Regions from separate parts of the Homo sapiens genome. Here region 2 is linked to region 1. The links come from fine-mapping of genetic effects on gene expression. Tissue or cell type: thyroid. Region 1 holds a variant in brackets; the other region holds the start of a gene. All regions are shown on one strand. Distances are between the middles of the regions.

Region 1 (5,656 bases):
CAGGCAGGTCACTTGAGCTCAGGAATTCAAGACCAGTCTGGCCAACATGGTGTAACCCCGTCTCTACTAAAAATACAAAAATTAGCCCAGTGTGGCGGCAGGCACCCATAATCCCAGCTACTTGGGAGGCTGAGGCAGGAGACTCACTTGAGCCCTGGAGGCAGTGGTTGTAGTGAGCTGAGATTGCACCACTGCACTTCAGCCTGGGTGACAGAGTGAGACCCTGTCTTTAAAAAAAAAGGTGAATAAGCGGTCTCCAGGTGGACAGAGAGGACAGTGCAGACAGAAGGAACTCGTCCTGTCTATGCAAATTACCCTTGACTGCAGACTGAGAGTTAAGATGTGGCCATGAAGGTGGCTGAGTATCCTGGGGTGCAGGTGCCTGGCAGGGGTGATGCAGGCTCTTCCTCCCTGCAGGCTGAGGTCCTGGACATCCTCTGGATCCTCCTGTCAGTCATCTTCGTCCCAGCCCGAGCGGGGTCCCAGCCCATCTCTCCTGAATACCATCAGCCTGGACACAATGCCCAAGTTTGCCTTCTCATCAGAGGATGAGGGGGTAGGCCCAGGCCCTGCAGGCCCCAAGAGGCCCGTCTTCATTCTAGGGGAGCCTGACCCCCCACCAGCGGCCACCCCAGTGATGCCCAAGCCCTCGAGCCTTTCTGGTAAGTGGGGCCCTGAGTAAGAGGGATGATGTCATGGAAGTTTCCCAGAGGAGGGGCTATTTGAGATGGGTTTTCAAGGATGAGTAGGAGTTCTCCAGAGCCAACAAAGGCTTTAAGAGAGGAGAAGCCAGGGTCCCAGAGAGACCCCCAGCCCCCAAGGAACCCCAGTCTAGGGTAAATGCCCCCAGCTTCATAGAGTCAGGATGGGACCCCTAGCTCCCAAGATGGGGGAACTAAGGGTCTAAATGGGTGTGGAGGAAGGCTTCCTGGAGGAGGGGACTTGAAGACTTTTGCATAGAGAATAATTTGGGAAGGGAGTGCAGGAAGAGGGAACTGCATGAGCAAAGGCCAGGAGGCTGGACTGTGTAAATAGTGACCAGGGAGGAAGGGCCTTAAGGTCCCTTTAGGACCACATGGTGAGTTTGAGGGGCACCCAGCTGACCCTGCTGACCCTCTAGCCGACACAGCTGCTCTCAGCCACGCCCGCCTACGGAGCAATAGCATCGGCGCCCGACACTCCACACCAAGGCCTCTGGATGCCGGCCGGGGCCGCCGCCTTGGGGGCCCAAGAGACCCAGCCCCTGAGAAGTCCAGAGCCTCCTCCAGCGGTGGCAGTGGTGGCGGCAGTGGGGGCCGCGTGCCCAAGTCAGCCTCTGTCTCTGCCCTGTCCCTCATCATCACGGCAGGTAATGCCCAAGGCCCCTCTCACCTTTGTCTGTCTGCACCCATTTTCACCAACAGGGTGGGGGCCCTTCCTGAGTTGGGGAGGCTGGGGATGAGCCCCAGAAGAGGGGAGGAGGAGTAGGACACATGGAGAGCTGGGGAGATGGTGTTCCCAGTAGAGGGCACTGCACGTGCAAAGGCCTGGTGGGGTGACCATGCTTGGGACATTGAAGCAACAGCAAAGTGGCCAGGGTGGTCGTTGTGGTGGGAAAGAGGGGGCCCCAGGGGAGACCTGTGAGGGAGTGAGTGACCCCCTCCCTAACCCCCTGCAGATGATGGCAGCGGCGGCCCCCTCATGAGCCCCCTTTCCCCGCGCTCTCTGTCCTCGAACCCGTCGTCCCGTGACTCTTCGCCGAGCCGAGACCCGTCCCCCGTGTGTGGCAGCCTGCGGCCCCCCATCGTTATCCACAGCTCTGGCAAGAAGTACGGCTTCAGCCTGCGGGCGATCCGCGTCTACATGGGTGATAGCGACGTCTACACTGTGCACCACGTCGTCTGGGTGAGTGCCGAGTGGGAATGGCAGGGACCCGGGTTCTAGTTTGACTCTGCCCGGTCATGTCCCTTCTCAGAGCTGCATTTTGGAGCCTGGCAGGGTTAGGTAGATAGAGCTGGTGCCACCGAGTTCATCTCGGTCCCTGTCATTTGGCAGGGAGGAGGTCAGATGAGAGAGACAAGGATGGATGGATGGAAGCTCACAGATCCCAAGTGGCATTAACCTCCCAGCTCCATATGGGGACGCACTGGGCATGTTATCCTCCCTCTCCCAGCCCAAGGGCGTCGAGGCATGCCCTCCCTATTGGTTGCTCCCTGAACAGACACAGAAGGCTTTCTGGAGAAGGGGGCGTAGGAGCTGGGGCTTTGATGGGTGAGTAGGAGTTCCCCCAGGATCAGGGAAACTGAGACAGCACAAGAGGCAGCAGCTTGCTGGGGTCCCACAGCAGACCCAGCCTGGGCTGGGGTCCCCAGATGTGGGGCCCAGGCCATTGACCCCACCGTTCTCGTCTGCCCCCAGAGTGTGGAGGACGGAAGCCCCGCCCAGGAGGCGGGCCTGCGGGCTGGGGACCTCATCACCCACATCAACGGGGAGTCAGTGCTGGGGCTGGTGCACATGGACGTCGTGGAGCTGCTGCTGAAGGTGCGGCACCCCCACTGCCCACCCTCAGGGCTCCCCAGCACCCCTTGGCCGCAGCTCCCGGTTCCCCGTGGTTCTCCGCGTCCAGACACACAACCCCACATTCAATGTCAACTCCAGGCCTGGCACATCCACTTCCTTCGGCCCAGAATACATGTCCTTCTTCAGCCCCCAACATCACCCCTTAGAGCTGCTCCTCCAGGAAGCCCTCCCTTCTCCCTGGGCACCCTCACATCTGTTCCTCCCTCTGGCCTGAGGCCTGGAGGTAGGAGATGGGCTCAAGACAGGAGGAAGGGCCGGG[C/T]GCGGTGGCACACGCCTGTAATCCCAGCACTTTGGGAGGCCGAGGCAGGATGATCACCTGAGCTCAGGACTTTGAGACCAGCCTGGGCAACAGAGCGAGACCCCCATCTCTGCAAAAAATTAAAAAATAAAATTAGCTAGGCATGGTGGCATGCGCCTATAGTCCTAGGTACTTAGGAGTCTGAGGTGAGAGGATCGCTTGGGCCGAGGAGGTTGAGGCCATAGTGAGCTGTGATCGTGCCATACTGCACTCCAGCCTGGGACACAGAGTGAGACCCTCCCTGGTTCTAAAAAAATAGAGGGCTCTCATGTGGGCAGCTGCATGGGTGGTTCATTGAATAGCTGGACACTGGGTAGGTGTCTTTGGCCTAATGACTCATGGGCCATTAGGTGAGTGATTGGGGGATGGGGAGATGTTGGGGTGATTAATGGGTGGATACCAGATAGGTGGGTGACAGACCCCGGGAGGGTGGAGAGTGAAGAGGGCAGGCCTCGATCGGCGTTGACCGCAGAGGGAAGGATCTTAGCAGGAGGGGTGGTGCTCCCTGGGCTATTGTTTGACCGGATATATTGGGTAGGTCACTGGTTGTGTGGATGAATGGATGCTGGGGTGGTGGGTCCCAGCTGGTGCCCGGAGTGAAGGGGACATAGCAGCTGCCTGGCAAGTGCTGGGCCCTGTGAGAGGCACAGAGGCAACCCCTCACCATCCCTCCCGCAGAGCGGCAACAAGATATCCCTGCGGACCACAGCCCTGGAGAACACCTCCATCAAGGTGGGCCCCGCCCGGAAGAATGTGGCCAAGGGCCGCATGGCACGCAGGAGCAAGAGGAGCCGTCGGCGGGAGACCCAGGATCGGTGCGCGGCAGTGACCACCAGGGAGCGGTACACAGGGGGCGGGGCCACGGGGACTGGGGTTCTTTTTTTCTTTTCTTTTTCCTTTTTTTTTTTTTTTTTTTTTTGAGACAGAGTCTTGCTCTGTTGCCCAGGCTGGAGTGCAGTGGCTCAATCTCGGCTCACTGCAACCTCCACCTCCCGGGTTCAAGCGACTGTCCTGCCTCAGCCCCCTAAGTAACTGGGACTACGGCGTGCACCATCATGCCCAGCTAATTTTTATATTTTCAGTAGAGACAGGGTTTCGCCATGTTGGCCAGGCTGGTCTCGAACTCCTGACCTTAAATGATCCATCTGCCTCGGCCTCTGAAAGTGCTGGGATTACAGGTGTGAGCCACCATGCCTGGCCAGGAGCAGGGGTTCTGAAGCCTCCGGTTTTCTTACCCCAGGCGGAAGTCACTTTTCAAGAAGATCTCCAAGCAGACCTCCGTGCTGCACACCAGCCGCAGCTTCTCCTCCGGACTCCACCACTCACTGTCATCCAGTGAGAGCCTCCCCGGCTCGCCCACCCACAGCCTCTCCCCCAGCCCCACCACTCCCTGCCGAAGCCCAGCCCCTGATGTCCCAGCAGGTGGGTGCACCCCGACCCCCCACCACCCCGGCTACCCTGGGAGCAAGGGCTGGTGGGCCCCAGGAGGGAGGAAGGAGTTCAGGGGATGGAATGACACGATGTAGGGAAAAAGATGACCGGGATCCTGGTGTCTAGCAGGGAACCTGGGAGTACTTAGAGACGAATGCAGGTGCCAGGGAAGGATGCACCCAGCAGAGGAAACATCATGGACAAATGGGGCTAGACAGGAGGGTGGGAAAACTGAGAAGAGGCCAGGCACGGAGGCTCACGCCTGTAATCCCAACACTTTGGGAGCCCGAGGCAGGAGGATCACTGAGCCCAGGAGTTTGAGACCAGCCTGGGCAACACAGGGAGACCCCATCTGTACAAAACATAAAAAAATTAGGTGGGTGTGAGGCCGGGCATGGAGGCTCACACCTGTAATCCCAGCACTTTGGGAGGCCGAGGCAGGTGGATCACCTGAGGTCGGGAGTTCAAGACCAGCCTGGCCAACATGGAGAAACCCCGTCTGTACTAAAAATACAAAATCAGCCAGGTGTGGTGGCACATGCCTGTAGTCCCAGCTACTAGGGAGGCTGAGGCAGGAGAATCGCTTGAACCCAGGAGGTGGAGGTTGCGGTGAGCCGAGATTGAGCCATTGCACTCCAGCCTGGGCAACAAGAGCAAAACTCCATCTCAAAAAAAAAAATTAGGTGGTTGTGGTGGTGCACACATGTGGTCCCAGCTACTCTGGAGGCTGAGATGGGAGGCTCACTTGAGCCCAGGAGGTCAAGGCTGCAGTGAGCCATGATTGCACCACTGCACTCCAGCCTAGGCAACAGAGTGAGACCCCATCTCAAAAAACAAAAGGGAAAAAAAAAAAGAAAACAGAAGTGATACAGAGAAGGCTTTCTGGAGGAGGGGGAGTAGGAGCTGGGGCTTTGATGGGTGAGTGGGAGTTCACCAGAGCTAGGCCAAGGAAACAACCCTGAGCAGGAGGCAGAAAAGTCTGGCATGAACCAGGCATGATGGCTCATGCCTGTAATCCCAGCACTTTGGGAGGCCAAAGCAGGCGGATCACTTGAGGTCAGGAGTTTGAGACCAGCCTGGCCAACATGGTGAAACCCCAACTCTACTAAAAATACAAAAATTAGCCAGATGTGGTGGCACATGCCTGTAGTCCCAGTTACTTAGGGGGCCGAGGCACGAGAATCATTTCAACCTGGGAGGTGAAGGTTGCAGTGAGCCAAGATCATGCCACTGCACTCCAGCCTGGGTGACAGAGCGAGACTCTATTGAAAAAAAAAAAATTAGCCAGCCATGGTGACGTGCACCTGTTGTCCCAGCTACTCAGGAGGCTGAGTTGTGAGGATCACTTCAGCCCAGGAGGTTGAGGCT
Region 2 (5,000 bases), 49 kb before region 1:
CCAAAATATATCCACAAAGGCAGGGGGCGGTAGCTCACACCTGCAATCCCAGCCTTTCGGGAGGCCAAGGTGGATGGATCACTTAAAGGTCAGGAGTTTGAGACCAGCCTGGCCAACATGGTGAAACCCCCGTCTCTACTAAAAATGCAAAAATTAGCTGGGAGTGGTGGCGGGTGTCTGTAATCCCAGCTACTCAGGAGGCTGAGGCAGGAGAATCAATTGAACCTGGGAGGCAGAGGTTGCAGTGAGCCAAGATCCCGCGACTGCACTCCAGCCTGGGCATCAGAGCAACACTTCATCTCAAAATAAATAAATAAAGAAATAAATCTATGCAAAAAGTTGTATGCCAATGTTTATAGCAGCTCTATTCAGAATAGCTACCAAAATGTGAAAAAATCCAAGTGACCACCAACAAATGAGTGGATCAACAAAATGTACATGTACATATATACAATGGAATATTATTTGGTCATGAAACGGAATGAAGTACTGATATTTGCCACAACATGGGTGCATCTTGAAAGCATGATGCTGAACGAAGCCAGACACATAAGGCCACATGTTATGTTTTCATTTTTATGAAATATCCAGCACAGGAAAATTCATAGAACAGGAAGCAGATTGGTAGTTGCCAGGGGCTGAGAGAGGGGGAATGAGGACTGGCTGCTAATAGGTACAGGGTTTCTTTTGGGGATGATACAAATGTCCTGGAATCAGATCGTGGTGATGGTTACACAACTCTGTGAGTATGCTTAAAACACTGAATTTATTGCACACTTTAAAAGCGTGAATTTTATGGTATGTGAATTATATGTCAATTTTTAAAATTGTATGAGAAAAACAAGTTTTCCCTGGCATCCTGTATTTTTATTTGCTCAATCTGGCCACCATAACTTGATGCAATTCTACAGTACCTCATGGACAGTCAGGCCCAGTGACCCTTCCTAGGGTCCCCTCGAGCCTGAAAGCATACTCCAGTGTCCACACTGTACAGTGGGGCAGCCGAAGACAACTGCGGCTGCAGAGAAAGTGCGAGTCCCAGGGAAAGAAAAAATGCAGGTGCTAAGCCAGGCACAGTGGCTCATGCCTGTAGTCCCAGCGCTTTGGGAGGCTGATGCAGGAGCATCACTTGAGGCCAGGAGTTCGAGACCAGCGCGGGAAACATGGCGGTACTCCATCTCTACAAAAAAAACCCAAAAAAATTAGCCAGGCATGGTGGCATGTGCCTGTGGTCCCACCTACTCTGGGAGCTGGGGTATGGGGGCTGAGGCAGGAAGATCGCTTGAGCCCGGGAGGTAGAGGCTGCAATGAGACAAGATTGCACCACTGCACTCCAGCCTGGGTGACAGAGAGAGACCCTGTCTCAAAAAAAAAATTTTTTTTTAAATGTGGGTGCTATTTTGGGACTTTGGGCTTTTCTCAGCCTCAGTTTCCCCTCCTGCAAAATGGAGTAGAACAATTATCTTCAAATATCTGTGAGAGATGGTGTTTATGAGACACTTAGGGCAAAAAGGCAATCATCCTCAAAAAAGAAACTGACAACTGCAGCGGCTACCTGCTTTTGTAAGTAAAGTTTTATTGGCACCAGGGCCAGGATTAAAGGGAGGCAAACAAGGCTGAGTGGTGCAAGGACAAGGGTCTGATCATGTCTTAAGAGTTTTAGTGTTTTGGCCAGGCAAAACACCAAAACTCTTTGGCCTGCAATCCCAGAACTTTGGGAGGCTAAGGTGGGTGAATCACCTGAGGCCAGGAGTTCGAGACAAGCCTGGCCAACATGGTGAGACCTCATCTCTACCAAAAATACAAAAAATCAGCCTGGTGTGGTGGTGGGCACCTGTAGTCCCAGCTACTAGGGAGGCTGAGGCATGAGAATAGCTTGAACCCAGGAGGCAGGGGTTGCCGAGATCATGCCACTGCATTCTAGTCTGGGCAACAGAGAGACTCGTCTCATAAATTAAAAAAAAAAAAAAAAAGTTTTGGTGTTTTGGCCATATGCGGTGGCTGACACCTGTAATCCCAACACTTTGGGAGGCCTAGGCAGAAGGATCTTTTGAGGCCAGGAGTTCAAGACCAGCCTGGGCAACATAGTGAGATCCCCGTCTCTAAAAATAAAATAAAAAATAAAAGTTTTGATGTTTTGTTCATCATAAATGTTTTCATTAATTTTATGTTTTTAAAATATTATTTCTCTTGATGGCTGAGTTTTGTGGGGCCACCTTAAATTTTGCACAGGGGTGAGATCCTCACTCGCCTCACCCTAGAACCCGTTCTGCTGTGTGTACTGGGCACATTTTTTGTTGTTGTTTTGTTTTTGTTTTTGAGACAGAGTCTCGCTCTGTCGCCCAGTCTGGAGTGCAGCGGCGCTATCCCGGCTCACTGTAACCTCCGCCTCTTGGATTCAAGCGATTCTCCTGCCTCAGTCTTCTGAGTAGCTGGGATTACAGGCGCGCGTCACCACCCCCAAGTAATTTTTTTTTTGTTTTGTTTTGGTTTTTTTTGTTTAGTAGAGACAGGGTTTCACCATGTTGGCCAGGGTGATCTCGAACTCCTGACCTCAAGTGATCTGCCCACCTCGGCCTCCCAAAGTGCTGGGATACAGGCGTGAGCCACTGCGCCCGGCCAATGCGCTGGGCATATTGATTAACCTATCTTAGCCTCAGTTTCTTCATCTGCAAAATGGGGCTGAACGATGCTGCCTTACTTCTGAGAGGATTCATGCAAAATATTTACTTCTGCGCTCTGCTGGAGGGGCGGGGCCAGCTCGCCCAGTGGGGGCGGGGCCCTGTGGTCGGGCTCCCCGGGAGGGGCGGGGCCAGGCCGTGTCAGCTGACCGGCCTGGCCAATGGCACCTGGCGGCGGGGCCTGGCAGGCCGGGGCGGGGCCGGGGGCGGGCCTGGCGGCGCGGACTCCCGGGCCATGGACGAGTCGAGCCTCCTGCGGCGCCGCGGGCTCCAGGTGAGGCCCCTGCGCGGGCGGGCGGAAGGCAGAGGGCGCGGCCAAGTGGACGCGGCCTGAAAGGTGCCGGGAGGGGCGGGGCCTTCACGGGCTGTAGGGAAACTGAGGCAGAGGGTGGGGAACGCTCAGATCGCTTCTTTTTGACCACCCGCTTCTCAAAGTGCTTTTTCTCATGGTGGGAAGGGGGAAGGTGCCCCCTTGGACATCTAGGGAAACTGAGGCTCCAAGCGATGGCGTGGGAGGAAGAGGCTGAGGGCTCTGCCCCTCCCCACCAGCTGTTCTAATAATAATGCTAGCAACAGCAGCCAGAGAGCTCACCATATGTTCATGGTTGTTTTAGTCCTATTACTAGCGATGTATTAATATGAGTTCATATGTATTAATACCTCCTTGGGTCGTCGCTGCACCACTGTACACCCTCAGCTCAGCCCTACGACGACCTGGGGAGGTTGGGGCTGTCAGGCGCCCATTTGTCAGAATAAGGAAACTGAGGCTCTAGTCCCGGAAAGCCACTCTCCAGAGGTCGCCTAGCTGGGATTCGATCTGCGCCCTCAACCAGCTCTCTTACGGCACAAGGCGCTGCCAACCAGCAGTGTGACCTGGGGGGAGGGCACCCTTGCTTCTCTGGGCCTCAGTTTTCCAATGAGCCATAGGGTCCTCCTTTTACTGAGTTTATGTTTAGGAGGCTGTGTCATCAGGAGGTAGGGACACAGGCGTCGGGGACAGCAGAAGCCTAAGTTTGAAGCCACACAGGGACTACATGACCCCGGGCAGCCACCCTTTGACTTCTCTGGGCCTCAGTGTCCCCATTATAAGAAAAGAAAAACAGGAATTAAGATTTGGCCATTTTCCTCTGGGACTTAGACCACACCCTTAAGAAGCCACCAAGTTTTCAGGTAGGGAACCTGGGATTCAGCACTTACCCAACGAACATTTATGGAGCGCCTGCTGTGTGCCTGGCTCTGGAGAGGCAGCGGAGTGTTCTGCAACCTCTGGAGCTGCCCTCCTAGAAACCCCAACCTGTTGGGGGAGGTAGACGCCAGAGCAGCGGTGACCCCACGGAGTGATCAGTTGTGATAAGGGACTCACAGCAAGTGAAGGAGGCGCCTGACCCAGTCATTGCTGGGAGCCCTGGGGTAGAGGAGGCAGCCAAGGGTGGCGAGGCATTGCAGCGGGGGGCGGTATTTAGGGAAATGAAAGAGGTTGACAGAAGCTGGAACCTAGGGAGGACTGAGCAGGTGGGGTGGGGGTCGGGGACTGAGGTTAGCTCCGGGCGGGTTGAGGGGGTGAGAGGAATGGGGCCGGCGGGTCTCCAACCTGGAGCCGCACCGGTAGCTGCGGGACTGCGAACTCAGCAGGTGATGGGAAGCCAGGTCGGGAGTGGTCAGGGAAGGCACGGGCTGAGCTGCAGATCAGAGACACCCGGTCTCTGGCCGCGCGGGGGTGGGGCAGAACTGGAGGCGCTGAGGCCAGAGGCAAGAGTGGGGGACTTGGGCGGAAAGGAGGGGGCGGGGCGGGATTGGCGAGCAGCGTGGTGTTGGTGGGGGGGCAGTCCCGCCTCCAGCCCCAGTTAGATGCCAACCCGCCCGCAGCCTCTTAAAATAGAGAAACCGCCTCCGGGTAGGCGAATGGGGGTGCTGCTGACGTCAAGAAGTGGGGCCTGTTCCATGGTGGGGGGGTCAAACATTTCCTGATGGTAAGTTCTATGTTACAAAAGGGGAAACTGAGGTTCAGAGAAGCATAGCCACTGTCCGGGTTTCACAAAGTATAGGTGACAGAGTCAGACAGGATTTGAACCCACGCAGTTCCGGCTTCCTCTCCAAACCAACCCAGCACAGGCGTCCCTCCACGAAGGTGGAGGGATGAGCACGGATTCCCCGACTGAATGAGGGCATTCCGGGCAGAGGCCACAGCACGTGCAAAGGCCCAGAGGCATGTAGCCTTTCTTACCTGTTTATATGGGGAAACAAGAACTTGAACCTATTTCTTAGCACTAGAGGCTGATGGCCAGGACTTAATGCTTCCAGGGCCTTCAGTGCTGATTT

Evidence for each region. PIP is the estimated chance that this variant, and not a neighbour inherited with it, causes the effect.
Region 2: MAST3 starts here. The variant in region 1 is fine-mapped to the expression of MAST3 in thyroid (GTEx, PIP above 0.99).

The regions. Positions count from the first base shown.
Region 1 is chr19:18,143,346-18,149,001 of GRCh38, forward strand. It overlaps MAST3 (microtubule associated serine/threonine kinase 3), which reads left to right. Exons shown (of 28, transcript NM_001393504.1): 22 at 418-662; 23 at 1,121-1,348; 24 at 1,658-1,884; 25 at 2,398-2,520; 26 at 3,536-3,699; 27 at 4,098-4,279. LOC124904650 (a long non-coding RNA gene) reads right to left here and starts at 423. Exons shown (of 3, transcript XR_007067153.1): 1 at 316-423. RefSeq lists enhancers at 1,936-2,437, 2,438-2,938. The variant C/T (reference allele first, on the strand shown) is at 2,819.
Region 2 is chr19:18,094,877-18,099,876 of GRCh38, forward strand. It overlaps MAST3 (microtubule associated serine/threonine kinase 3), which reads left to right and starts at 2,902. Exons shown (of 28, transcript NM_001393504.1): 1 at 2,902-2,955. The coding sequence starts at 2,917. It also overlaps a transcript of IL12RB1 not described here. RefSeq lists a silencer at 2,637-3,146.